2 separate regions of the Homo sapiens genome follow, and region 1 is linked to region 2. The links come from fine-mapping of genetic effects on gene expression. Tissue or cell type: aorta. Region 2 holds a variant in brackets; the other region holds the start of a gene. All regions are shown on one strand. Distances are between the middles of the regions.

Region 1 (5,134 bases), 24 kb after region 2:
GCGCTGGACGGCAGGGTGTGGTTGTGCTATTTTATCCCCAGCTGTGGTTGGCCTGGTGTTTCCTGTGGAGCAGATGACCGATAAGTGTTTCCCTCTGAAAACCAGGAGTTGAGGAAGATGCTAGTGTGGACAGGCTGGGGAGAAAGGAAGGACCATAGGGCCCCAGGGAAGTGACAGTTGCCACTGTTCACTGAGTTCCTCCAGGGTGCATGGCACCCCTCATTTCCCATCCTCACAGTCCCACGTTGAGCTGTGTGCCCGCCGTGCACTAGGGAAAGTGAAGGCTTCCTGAGGACGAGTGGCTCGCCAGGGTCACAGATGAGAGGCAGACTGAGATTCAAGCTTGGGTGACCTGCCTCAAATGCTTAGGTTCTTTTTGCCACCACGAGCTTCTCCTGGGGTAGGGCTTGGGGGTGGCCCATGGTGCTAATGCATGTGGGGTGCTGACCGGCTTTCCCTCTGGGAGTCCAGGTGGCGCATATTAGCAGAGGGGCCAGGGACTCCTTGGATCCAGGGCGTGTCCTTAGGGTCTCAGCCTTGAGGGTGTAAAAGCTAAAGTGAGTGTCCGGGTGGATAAGGGACTTGGATAGGATCCTGCCGTGTGGGCTGGGGTGGGTACAGCAAGATGCCAGAATCCCTGGAGTTCGCAAGGACATTATCTTTTTGGAGACCTCAGGGTCTGATCACACTTCATGACTGTTCTCTGGGCCTCAGATTCCTCATCAGTGAAAAGAGGATAAATCATCCTGAGCCTTGCTCTTTCCTAGGGATGTTGGAGGGAAAGAAAAGAATAAAAGATGCCTGATTGTGCTCTGCGTGAAACTCTCCATCTCTTCCACCCTGTCTTGTCTTTGGGGTGGGGACGATTCTCCTGCCTGCAAAGATCAGGGAACTGAGACCTGAAGAGGATAAAGTGCCTTGCTGAGGCCCAAGAAATACAGAGGTGCCACAGCAGGACCTCTAACCACAACCTAAGGAGACTTGGGAAGTGGATAAGGGTGATTCTGCACTAAGTGAACCCTCTTTTTTTCTGTCTCCTACTGACCTTGCCGTGTCCATCCACGGGTGTCCCGAAGAACCTCCTCTTCCGCAGCCGTGACCCCTCTCCTATCCAGCAGCCTCCCAGCAGCTCCGCTCCACCCCGCCTGCCAGCAACAGGAAGCCCTGGTGAGACCAAAGGCTCAGCGGTGCCACCAGCTCATCCGGAGATTATTCTGCCTTGGTCTGGGCTGTAGCGACGCTGGCAACCTGCCGGGAAGTGGCCATGGCCTCGGGCAACAGCGAAGTTTAGCCCAACTCCCTTCCCAGCCTCCACCCACACAAGCCTGAGAGACAGGCCAGGGTGTGGCCCCATGTCCTCCCCCTCTGGAGGGTGAAAAACAAAACTCCCCAGGCCAGAGGAAGCCAGGGAGTGGAGGGATGGGGTGAGCGCCAAACACAGACCTAGCCCTGTTCCCTTCCATGCTTCATGGAGGGATCACCCCTTCTAGATCACCCCTTCTGTCCCTGCCAAGGAAGGCTGCCAGATGGGCTCAGGCAGAGCCATGTGGCCATGCAGACTCCAAGAAAAGGAGAAGCTGGAGGAGGAGGACCAGGAGGAACAACAGGAGGAGGAGGAGGAGGAGGAGGAGGAGGAGGAGTCTGATTCTTCCCCCACTTCACAGCCTGGAGCTTCCAGCCTAACTTCCTGGGAAAGGCAGTTTGCATCACTGCTGGGGAAGAATGGGTTAAAGTCAGCCCCCTTTGCCCCATCCTTTTCCCTTCTTGGCTTCTAGGCTCCTAATTAGCTCCCTGTGGAGGCCCTGGGTTCATAAACTGGCTCAAAGTGGGGTACAAGATACCTGCACAGGGTGGGTGGTGAGCAGAGGATGGGCCAGGCCATCTTCTGAGACCACTGCCCCCAGGCCAAGGATGGGTCACATCCAGACCCCCAGTGGGACCTCCTCCAACATCAGTGACGACAGGAGACTGGCGGCTCGGGGAGGGGCAGGACTGCTCCCTGTTCAACCGGGTGGAGGGAACCTCAGCTAGGGGCCTCTCTCCCTCTGGGCAGCGTGGGACAGGCCCCACCATGCTCCGCTGACACCTGGCACACCCCAGGGAGGGCCCCTTCCTTACCTGGGGCCAGCTGTGGGCACTTGTGGCCATGGCCTCCTCGGGGCCGGACTCTCCAAGTGGCCTCCAGGAGGGCGGTGCAGGGCAGCGGCGGCCTCCGCCGTTCCCTCCCGCTTTTCTTCTGCACGGGGGCCTGGGGCTGGTGGCGGCTTCAGACTAATCTAACTCCAGAAAAGAGAGAAGAAAACAGTGGGATGGAGTCTGCGCGCCAGTGAGTGGAAAAACAGCCTCCCGGCGCCACCAGGCAGAGGAGGGCGGGCCCCGAGGGCGGCGCGAGAGGAGAGGAGCCGAGAGGAAGTTGAGATGCCTGTTCTGCAGCTGCTGCGCGTCCCACCGACCCGCTGCTCGCCGTCCCTGGGCCGTGCTGGCCCTCCGCCCTCGGCCCAGACCCGGACCGGGCCATGCTCCACACCAATGGGACCAGTCGGGAGGGCCACGTGGGGATGTGGAGGCATTGGGGAGATCTGACCCAGACCTGCCCCCCATGACAGTTTCAAGAGCACCCCACGTACTTGACCCCCGCTGGGCAGAAGCTACCAAAGGAGACCCCGCGAGGGTCAAGGGAGGGTGTCGTCAGGCCCGCGCTGAGCCCTGCAGGATGCTCAGGGCCAGGGCCCCACCCTCTACTGGCCCTTCTCCCTCAGAGTTGTCCATTGACTGGACAAACCATCCCCAATGCTGACTCTTTGACCTATAGTCAGCTAACTCCCCGGGACCTGCTTCGGATCCCTGGAGGGCTGAGGATTGAATTCAGGAGCCTAGGGATTCTCCGGGTCCTGCAGGCAGAGCTCCAACTGGTGGGTGAAAGTTACAAGGAGGCAGGTTTCTGAAGGAAGCCCTGTGTAATAATCAGAGCTGCCCAGCCTGTATCTAAAAGTGGTCAAGATGCGGGCTGAAGCGTCACGGGTCAGGAATGCTGCACAGGAGAGTCTACGGACAGGCTAGATGACCCTTAGCATGGAGGGAGAGGACCCCCGACATCTGTCAGCTCTGCAGTGCTCGTGGTTCCGTCATGGTGGAGCTGCCGAGTGACCCGCTGGCCTCCCTGAGCTGGGCTTGACCATATGTACGAAGGAAAGAAAAGGTACCAAGTTCTGCTTGTTTATTTGTTTGTTTCAGATCCCAGCATGTGCTAAACACAGTCCCAGATCCTTCCCTAAAAGTTATCTTCCTCTATCCTTACCACAATCCTGAAAATCAGGTCTTTTTTAAAAAATAATTTTTTCATTTTAAAAAAATTATAAATCTTCTCTTTATTCTTCTTCTTCTTCTTATTATTATTATTACTTTACAGAGACAGAGTCTTGCTATGTTGCCCAGGCTGGTCTCCAACTCCCAGGCTCAAGTGATCCTCCCTCCTTGGCCTCCCAAGTGCTGGGATTACAGGCATGAGCCACTCCGCCTGGCCAAGCAGGTCTTCTAATATCCATTTTATAGACAGACACACTGAGGCTTAGAGTGGCTGGGTGACTGGCCACAAGTCCTGCAGTGCTGGTATTTGAACTCAGGTGTGCCTGACCCAAAGCTTTGCTCTTCATCACATTTGTACCTCCTGATACCTCCGGGCCTTCTCTTCCCACTGGAAGTGCTGCCACCCACCAACATACACCTTGTTTTTTGCTCATCCTAATCCTCCCTGACTTCAGGGCCCATACCAACTCCTACCTCCTGGAAGAGCCCTCCCAGCCCACCTTGGCCCACAAAGATCTGAGCAACTCCTCCCAAATAATTAAGAGGAGGGAAACTGGACCCCAGAAGTGGGAATAGAGGGAAGGATGGATAAAAAAGGATGGAATCATGCCAAGATCAAAATGAATCCTTAGATGCTTGGGACTTATGTCTCAGAGCTGAGGGCGGTGCTGAGAAACCTATCTGTACCTCTGTTTCCTCCTCAACAAGATGGAAGCTCGAGTGTTTGTGTTGCTGTCTCATCCCTGCCCAGGGGAGGAGGAAGGAAGTCCTTAGGTTCAGAAATCAACAAATACATTAGCCACCCTGTGCTGGGTGCCTACTATGTGCCATGTGCTTTTACACACAGCAACCCCATGATGGCGGGCCGGGGGGGCCTCATCCTCATTGTATAGATGAAGAAACGAAGGCACAGGCAGTGATGCAGCTGGCCCAGGGACAGGGTTTGTGAGTGGTAGAGACACCATTTGACCCAGTTCTGTCTCACTCTGGAATCTGAGCTGCTTTCTCTTTACACTGCTCTCCTCCACCCTCATCCCACCTGGGCTAGAGCCTTGGAGCTCCTCTTAGCCTCTTAGAACTCCATCCCCAAGAGGTGGGGTCTTTGAGAAAAATGGAGAGACTTCAGCTTCTGTGTCTAACTTCTCAAGCCTTGGGGATGGTCTGATTTCCCCTGGAGACCTGGATGTGACGGGGGTATTAAGGTGGTTTTTCAAAGACCCCTCTACAGGAGGACTTTTGTGCTTGGTTTGTGCTAAATAAACATGCAGTCCACCTGGACAATTGTCACATGACCCCCATGGTGACCACACACTCTGACCTCTTCCATGTGAACCTAGCTTCTGACATCTTGTCTCATCGCCTGTCACCCCAGGTGTGTCACACCAGGTAGGCTGTGTGTCATGTCCTTATGGACCTGCCCCGGCACACCCAGTCTCACCTACGACACGCTTGCCCAAATCAGAGGGCTCCCACTTCATGAGACGCCTGATGATTCCCACTCCCCGAGCCCGGAGCATAAAGGAAGAGAGGTACTGAACAGCCACAGACGAGGGTGGACCCTGGGGCAGGGATGTCTGTTGAACCTGGGAGGAGACAGTGAACATCAGCCTGGGAAGGGCTGGGCAGAGGGGAGCCATTGGTCCCTGTACCTGCCATGACAGTTCCGACCCCTTTAGACTAATACTGCTCATGGGCCCACTGCCCTAGGGCCATCCAGGGCAGTGTCACACCTGAAGGCATCAGATCCCCTTCCAGCTCCAAATTTCCTGCCTCCAATGGGCAGGCGAGTGCTAGGGAGTGTGGATCTGCCTAGGGGAGTACTGCCCAG
Region 2 (8,106 bases):
GCAAAAACCAAGCCAAGGTAATTCAGAGGCAGCCCCATGAGTTTAGTGTACAGGAGAGGAAAGCTAGGTCCAGGGAGTGAAGGCTAGTCTGTTCCAGCTCAGACCAGCCTTGAGTTCCCTAGCCTTGGGACCCCAGAGGGTTTCCTCAGCCACACCCTGCCCAGTGGGGCCATGAGTGAGTGACCATGCTGTGTAAGGAAAGCAGGGATGGTGGCTTTTCTCTCTTCTAGCTGAGGAAAGGCAGCGAACACCAGGCGATTGTGCAGCACTTGGAGAAGTCCTTTGCCATTGCCTCCTTGGTAGAGACGGGCCACCTGGCAGCTTTCTCCCTGACCTCTCACCTCAACGACACCTTCCGCTTTGACTCAGAGAAATTGCAGGTGGGACAGGGTGTCTCCCTAACCCTCAAGACCACAGAACCAGGAGTGACTGGCCTTCTTTTGGCTGTGGAGGGGCCGGCTGCCAAGAGGACCATGAGGCCGACCCAGAAGGACTCTGAGACAGTTGATGAGGATGAAGAAGTGGATCCAGCTCTGACTGTAGGGACCATAAAGAAGCACACCCTCTCCATCGGGGACATGGTCACAGGGACTGTCAAGTCCATTAAGCCTACCCATGTGGTTGTGACTCTGGAAGATGGCATTATTGGCTGTATCCATGCCTCCCACATTCTAGATGATGTTCCAGAGGGCACCTCTCCTACTACCAAGCTGAAGGTTGGGAAGACGGTCACTGCCCGAGTGATTGGCGGGCGAGACATGAAGACATTCAAGTATGGAGGCTCTGGGGGTGGGCTGGCTTCGAGGGAGATTGTTGTTGTTGTGGGAGGACTGGGAAAGTAGGTGGGCTCCAAAAAGTTGCATGTAAGTCAGATTCTCTTTTAGTTAACAAAAGGCATTCACCAAAGAATTATTTTGCAAGATTCTTTTTTTTTTCTTTTTTTTGAGACGGAGTCTCACTCTGTTGCCCAGGCTGAAGTGCAGTGGTGTGATCTCGCCTCACTGCAAGCTCTGCCTCCTGGGTTCACACCCTTCTCCTGCCTCAGCCTCCCAAGTAGCTGGGACTACAGGCACCCACCACCACGCCCGGCTAACTTTTTGTGTTTTTAATAGAGATGGGGTTTCACTGTGTTAGCCAGGATGGTCTCAATCTCCTGACCTTGTGATTTGCTCACCTCCACCTCCCAAAGTGCTGGGATTACAGTGCATTATTCTTTTTAAAAATATGGAATATATGGTGTGGTTGTTAAGAACATGGGTTTGGAGTCAGACCCGGGTTTGAATTCTAGATTAACTGTGACCATGTGGCAGTAGCTACTTAAGTCCAAATTTTATTTTCTTAATTTGTAACGTGAGAGTCATGGTAGCGACTACTTTGTAGGGCCATGGTGAAGACTGAAAGAGAGAACGTGTAGTCTGTTCTTTGCCTAGTGGGTTGCTGGCCTCAGTTACTGCGCTGTATACATCTGCAGTTGTCATTCTCCACCTCCCACTTTAATTATCCTCATTTACTTTAAATCTAGTGCCACATGTTACTGTAGCAGAAATTCTTGCTATAACAAGAACAGCAAAAAAAGAATTCAAAGTCTGGCCAATAATTTGCATATTAATTTCAGTAGCTAACTGTGGGGTCTTCAGTAAGTCAATTATCCTCTAAATAAAGACCTCAGTTTCCTTATTTTTAGAATGAAAGAATTGGAGTATATAGACTGTAAGGAAAATTGTTTTCAGGATCTGATATGACAATCCTAAAAGATCAGGCCAGGCACGGTGGCTCACGCCTGTAATTCCAGCACTTTTGGGAGGCTGAGGTGGGTGGATCACCTGAGATCAGGAGTTCAAGACTAGCCTGGCCAACATGGTGAAACCCCGTCTACTGAAAAAACAAAAATTAGCCGGGCACAGTGCCTGTAGTCCCAGCTACTCGGGAAGCTGAGGCAGGAGAATCACTTGAACTCAGGAGGCAGAGGTTGCAGTGAGCTGAGATTGTGCCATTGCACTCTAGCCTGGGCAAGAGAGTGAGACTCCGTTTCAAAAAAAAAAAAAAAATCAGGTGAGGCTGGGTGTAGTGGCTGAACCCTGTAATCCCAGCACTTTGGGACGATGAGGGAGGTGGAAAACCTGAGCCCAGGAGTTCAAGACCTGCCTGGGCAACATGGTGAGACCCCATCTCTACAAAAAAAAAAATAAATAAATAAAAATAAAAATTAGCTGGGCATGGTGGCATACACCTATAGTCCCAGCTACTTGGGAGGCTGAGCTGGGAGGATTGCTTGAGCCCAGGAGATTGAGGCTACAGTGAGCCATGATTGCGCCACTGCATTCCAGCTTGGGTGACAGAGTGAGACCTTGTCCCAGAAAAAAAAAAAATTCAGATGAGCCTGCTCCTTACTAATAACTGCAAAGGTTGGGAATGGAAACCTTCAGCCTGACACATCTGTCTTCAGTGGTGGTGTGACAGTGGAACAGGGTGCTTTTGTGAGCTTGGTTTGGTGGAGAGTAGGGAGAAATCCTGACCTACAGATTACTGTGTTACAGAGATGAAGAGAAATGATTCAGCTTATTTGTTTCTCCAGGTATCTCCCAATAAGTCACCCCAGATTCGTTCGAACCATCCCGGAGCTGAGTGTTCGGCCAAGGTGAGGGGGACATTAGCAGCACTGTCTTACGGAAAGAGCACTGGGCTTTGGAATTAGGAATCCCGAATTCGAATCTTGATTTTACCAGTGTTAGGATTGATTTTTGCCTTTCTCTGTCCAAGTTTTCTTGTTTCTCTAGTGGGGATATTTGGTTCTCCTAGGGCTGGAGGGATCATATGAAAATTAATGCAAAAGCTGTGTACAGGTTTTAAGTATCAATTTAAAGCCTGGTTTCAGTTCTGTTTGTCAGCATGTCACAAAAAGAAACATTTTTGCTCTCAACCCAATTTTCTATAACTCAGTAATTCCCTAAATAAGCAACATGTATCCAAGAATACCTGTTATTTCAACCTAGACGACTGTGTGGTGGGCTGGAGGCTGAATAGGAATTTCAGGTCATGGTGGGGTAGATTCTGAAGAGAAGGGTGTTCCATGAGATACTCTGTGGGGAGGAGAACGAGGAGTTCTCTAAAAGAACCCAGCCTCTCAGATTGATAGACCCTTAGTGAATGAAGCTAGGTGTGTATGACCTTAATTAAGAAAGGCTCTGTGGCTCAGTCCTGGGATCCAGCCAGGTTGTAAATCTTAATGCACCTAGAGATTTACAGAACGGTCTCCAAAGTAACTTCCAGAGCCAGGCACAGTGGCTCACGCCTGTAATCCCAGCACTTTTGGAGGCTGAGGCAGATGAATCACTTCAGGTCAGGAGTTCCAGACTAGCCTGACCAACATGGCGAAACCCCATCTCTACTAAAAATACAAAATTAGCCGGGTGTGGTGGCGGGCGCTTGTAATCCGAGCTACTTGGAAGGCTGAGGCAGGAGAATTGCTTAAATTTGGGAGACGGAGGTTGGAGTAAGTCAAAATCTCGCCATTGTGCTTCAGCCTGGGCAACAAGAGCGAAAGCCGTCTCAAAAGAAAAAAAAAAAACACAAAGTAAATATTCCTGGCACATTGAGTTTCAGATGCTAATAACACTTTTGGAACTTCAAAGTAAGCCCTAAACTAAAATTTCAGAATAATAAGATTTGGGGGATGAATTACATTCCTATTTGTTAACTGTGGTTTCTTAGTTTTGTAGATTTTGATTGTATTTATCCTCCAGTCTTTGTTGGAAAAATGAAGAAACCTCTTCATATTAATGGTTTCAGCCTGCAGTATCTTCAACTCTGACATGTGATGTCTTGTTTTAATTAAACCCTTAATTAGGGTTGAGGTTAAGTAGTTTATTCAAACTAAGGGTAGATATCTTAATTTAACAGATATATGGGGGATGAGTCAGTGAACTCTGTGGGAACACTGAGATCCTAAATGGTTTTTGATCCTAGGAGTACTGAGGAACCCCTCATTAACACTGCTGGTGTTGGAAGACTATGGTATGAGCCAGAGTGGGGGTACTTGGCTGTAGCAGAGTGGGCCATGACAGGAATTGAGTGGATTTGTTAAGGAGGTGGGAGATGTAGAGTTATAATAACAGATAGACAGATGGCCAGACACACTCCCAGACAGATGGCCAGACATCTTCCACTTCCTCCATGGACCTTTGTTGTACTGTGACTTGTTTTAATCTCAAGGCTCTTGAGAAACATAGTGATATTTCTCATGCTTATGTTTTAAAATAAATATTTTGAAGTCAGGATGAAAAACATTTAACTGACAGTTTTGACTTAACGGAGGAATTATAGCTGTATTTTTATTCCTCATTTCGTATGGGGATCT[C/T]GTTCACAAAGAGAATGCTGTCTGTTCTAGAGCTGAGTTCAGAGGTGTTGAGGGGCACTCAAGGTTAAGATTCATCTTACCTGCTTACTCCTCTGGAGGGCTGAGAGGAAAGAGACAAGGCCATTCAGGAGTCTTAAACGGTGTCTCTGGCATTCCTGTTAGCCAGTGAGTTTTCTCATAGGTCCCCATTCAGTACTGCCAACCCTTCTTTTTTGGAGGGTTGCTCTTTTTGGAGAGGAAGTTTCAAATCACTTCAGGAAAAGAACAAAGGATAACACATATCCGTTTATGTGGTGGGTTTGGTTTGGTTTGGTTTGGTTGAAATAACAGAAATTTCTTTTCTCACAATTTTGGAGGCTAGAAGTCTGAGATCAAGGTGTTGACAGGTTTTGTTTCTTCTAAGGCCTCTCTCCCTGGCTTACAGATGGCCATCTTCTCCCCATGTCTTCACATGGTCTTCCTTTTATGTGTATCTGTGTCCTCATCACAGATGAGTAATTTTTTACAGTAAAAAATTACTGTAATTTTTAAAATTACTATAACACATACATTTACCCTCAACAATTTTCAGGTATACATTACCTGAAACAACATGCATTGTTAACTAAATGCATGTTATACAGCAAATCTCTAGAAGTTTTTTGTCTTGCGTGACTGAAACTATACCTATGGAACAGCAACTCTGCTTCTCCCTCTCTTCCGCCCCGGCAACCACCATTTCCCCTTCCGTCTCAGTGAATTTGACTGTTCTAGGTACCTCACTCATATAAATGGAACACATACAGTATGCGTCCTTTTGTGACTGGCTTATTTCACTTAGTGTGATGTCTTCAAGGTTTATCCATTTTGCAGCATGTGTCAGAATGTCCTGTCTTTTCTTTTCTTTTTTCTTTTTTTAGAGACAGGGTCTTGCTCTGTCACCCAGGCTGGAGTGCAGTGGCGTGATCATGGCTGACTACAGCCTTGACGTTCTGGGCTCAAGTGATCCCCCTCCCTCAGTCCCCCGAGTAGCTGGGGCTACAGGCACGCACCAACATGCCTAGCTAATTTTTGAATTTTTTTTGTAAAGACTGGGTTTTGCCTTGTTGCCCAGGCTGGTCTCAAACTTCTGAGCTCAGGCAATCTGCCTGCCTCGGCCTCCCAAAGTGCTGAGATTATAGGCATGAGCCACTGTGTCTGGCATATCCAGTCTTTTCAAGGCTGAATAATATTCCATTATAGGTATATGCCACATTTTGTTTATCCACCCATTGGTCAACGGACATTTAGGTTGCTTGTGCCTCTTGGCTATTGTGAATAGTGCTGCATTGAACATGAGTGTGCAAATACCTCTTTGTGATCCTGATTTCAGTTCTTTTGAGTATATACCTATAAGTGGGATCACTGGATCGTATGGTAATTCTATTTTTAATATTTTGAGAAACTTCCATACTGTTTTCCATAATCGCTGTACCATTTTACATTCTCATCAACTGTGCACAAAGGTTTCTATTTCTCTACATCCTCGCCAACACTCGTTATTTTCTTTTTTTTTTTTTTTTAATAGTGGCCATCCTGCCGGGGTAAGGTGATATCTCATTGTGCCTTTAATTTGCTTTTTGTGATAATTGGTGATGTTGAGCATCTTTTCATTTGCTTCTTGGCCATTGGTATATCTTCTTTGGAGAAATGTCTACTCAAGTCCTTTTGCTCTCTTTTTTTTTTTTAAATGGAGTTTCGCTCTTATTGCCCAGGCTAGAGTGCAATGGCACAATCTCAGCTCACTGCAACCTCTACCTCCTGGGTTGAAGTGATTCTCCTGCCTCAGCCTCCCGAATAGCTGGGATTACAAGCGCCCACGACCACGCCCAGCTAATTTTTTGTATTTTTAGTAGAGACGGGGTTTCATCATGTTGGCCAGGCTGTTCTCAAACTCCTGACCTTAGGTGATCCACCCGCCTTGGCCTCCCAAAGTGCTGGGGCAATTCTTACTTTACTAGATAGGAAAGTTCCCATTTTCTACATTTGGGAGCACTTGCTATTGTATTTTACAAATTTACTAACATTACTTGTACCAGTTTGGTTCATTTGGGCTTAGAAATTATTTGAATTGGTAAGTAGGGGTGGCAGTTTTGTGATTCCTTTGAGGTGATTGTGGACTGATAACTTTCAGGCTACATCCCTTTGTGGTTTTTCTGAGAAGAAAAAAGAAAATCAAAGGCTGAGTGCCGTGGCTGACATCCATAATCTCAGCACTCTGGGAGGCCAAGGCCAGTGGATCACTTGAGGTCAGGAGTTCGAGACCAGCCTGGCCAACATGGTGAAACCTTGTCTCTACTAAAAATACAAAGAAATTAGCTGGGTGTGGTGGCGGGTGCCTGTAATCTCAGTTTTTGGGAGGCTGAGACATGAGAATCACTTGAACCTGGGGGGTGGAAGTTGCAGTGACCCGAGATTGTGCCACTGCACTCCAGCCTGGGTGACAAAGCAAGACTCTGTCTCAAAAAAAAGAAAAAAAAATTACTTGAATAAATGAATGCTCATTTTATTAAAAAAAAAAATCAAGAAAATGCTAATGGAAGGGTAGCATAGGGCAGAGAGCCCTGGATTTTGAGTCAGAAGCCCTGATTTTAACTCCTGGTTCAGTAGCATAAAATGGGCTTAATATCTCCCCTGCTGAACTCACACAGTTGTCAAATTCAGTGAGAGATAATTTTTGAATGCAGTTTTGCAAAGTAAAGCAACAGCCAAAGTATTATGAAAGAAGTAAAACAATTTTGTTTCCTGAGTTTATAAAGCCTATTGTGGGCTACCTGCTTTAAAAGCAGCTTGTTCATAAGTAGATGAATGAAACGGAAAAGATTAGCCTCGGGCCAGTATTGTGGACATTCCCCTTTGAGGAGAGAAACGGCCTTGGAGGGTGAGTATGAGTAGGGGAGTCCCGTACAGTCAATCCGTGGCCACTTGGGAGAGATGGTTTCAAACTGGAAGTCTTATCCAGAGATGGGTTTACTGTTTACATTTCCTTTCTGCAAACAGTGAGCTGGAGGATGGCCACACTGCTCTTAACACTCACTCTGTTAGCCCCATGGAGAAGATTAAACAGTACCAGGCCGGCCAGACTGTTACTTGCTTCTTAAAGAAAGTAAGTAGTTTTGCCACTCGGCAATGAGATGTCATTCTTCTTTCAGAAAAAAGGTCATGACGTTGGAGAGAAAAGCCATTAGCAGAGAAAGGCATTTGAGTCTGTGCTACCATGCTGGGTTTGTGGGAGACAGTACGTGGCCTCTGCCACTAGAGAACTTCTGGTCTAATTAGGGAGCTAAAATATGGCTTACACACAATTAGCAAGCAGCTCGTAATTCATTGTTGGTAGGTTAATTGTAGAAATGGAAAGTAAAATACATGGCAAGATTTAGAATATAAATGTATATAATTTGGATTTTAGATTCATGCTTTTCATGAAGTTCAGGTGCACTGTAAAACAACATGAAATTGGGTGCCAGATTATGTGTTCCAACCCCAACTGGAACAGGAGTTCAAAAAGGAAGGAAAGCAGCCTGTACTGGTTGAAACATGTAGGAGAGGCGGCTGGATTGGGTTTGACCTTGAAGAATAATACCTCTCCATTGTTGCCAGATTCCTCTTCGATGAGCATCTTTGAGCATGATCGTCTCTGATGCTTGATCCCTTCAGTTACCTATTGTCTATAGACATTCATACACCCCAGATGCCTTAGCGTGGCAGATAAGGCTCTTCATAATCTGACC

Alleles and levels. Alleles are on the strand shown, and positions count from the first base shown. SD is a standard deviation of normalised expression in the study named.
For the expression in aorta of the gene that starts at base 2,333 in region 1, T is the low allele of the variant in region 2 and C is the other (large effect, 0.89 SD a copy in GTEx).

What was found. PIP is the estimated chance that this variant, and not a neighbour inherited with it, causes the effect.
Region 1: it holds the start of CALHM2, and the variant in region 2 is fine-mapped to the expression of CALHM2 in aorta (GTEx, PIP 0.98).

What each region holds. Positions count from the first base shown.
Region 1 is chr10:103,450,038-103,455,171 of GRCh38, forward strand. It overlaps CALHM2 (calcium homeostasis modulator family member 2), which reads right to left and starts at 2,333. Exons shown (of 4, transcript NM_015916.5): 1 at 2,119-2,333; 2 at 1,046-1,248; 3 at 1-62. It overlaps CALHM1 (calcium homeostasis modulator 1), which reads right to left. Exons shown (of 2, transcript NM_001001412.4): 2 at 3,203-5,134. LOC124902494 (a long non-coding RNA gene) reads left to right here and starts at 2,406. Exons shown (of 2, transcript XR_007062275.1): 1 at 2,406-3,199. RefSeq lists enhancers at 1,006-1,375, 1,324-1,944, 1,945-2,566 and a silencer at 2,405-2,734.
Region 2 is chr10:103,424,754-103,432,859 of GRCh38, forward strand. It overlaps PDCD11 (programmed cell death 11), which reads left to right. Exons shown (of 36, transcript NM_014976.2): 20 at 231-772; 21 at 2,576-2,638; 22 at 7,376-7,481. Among named protein-coding and RNA genes, the nearest start is that of CALHM2, 24 kb to the right of the region's middle. The variant C/T (reference allele first, on the strand shown) is at 4,358.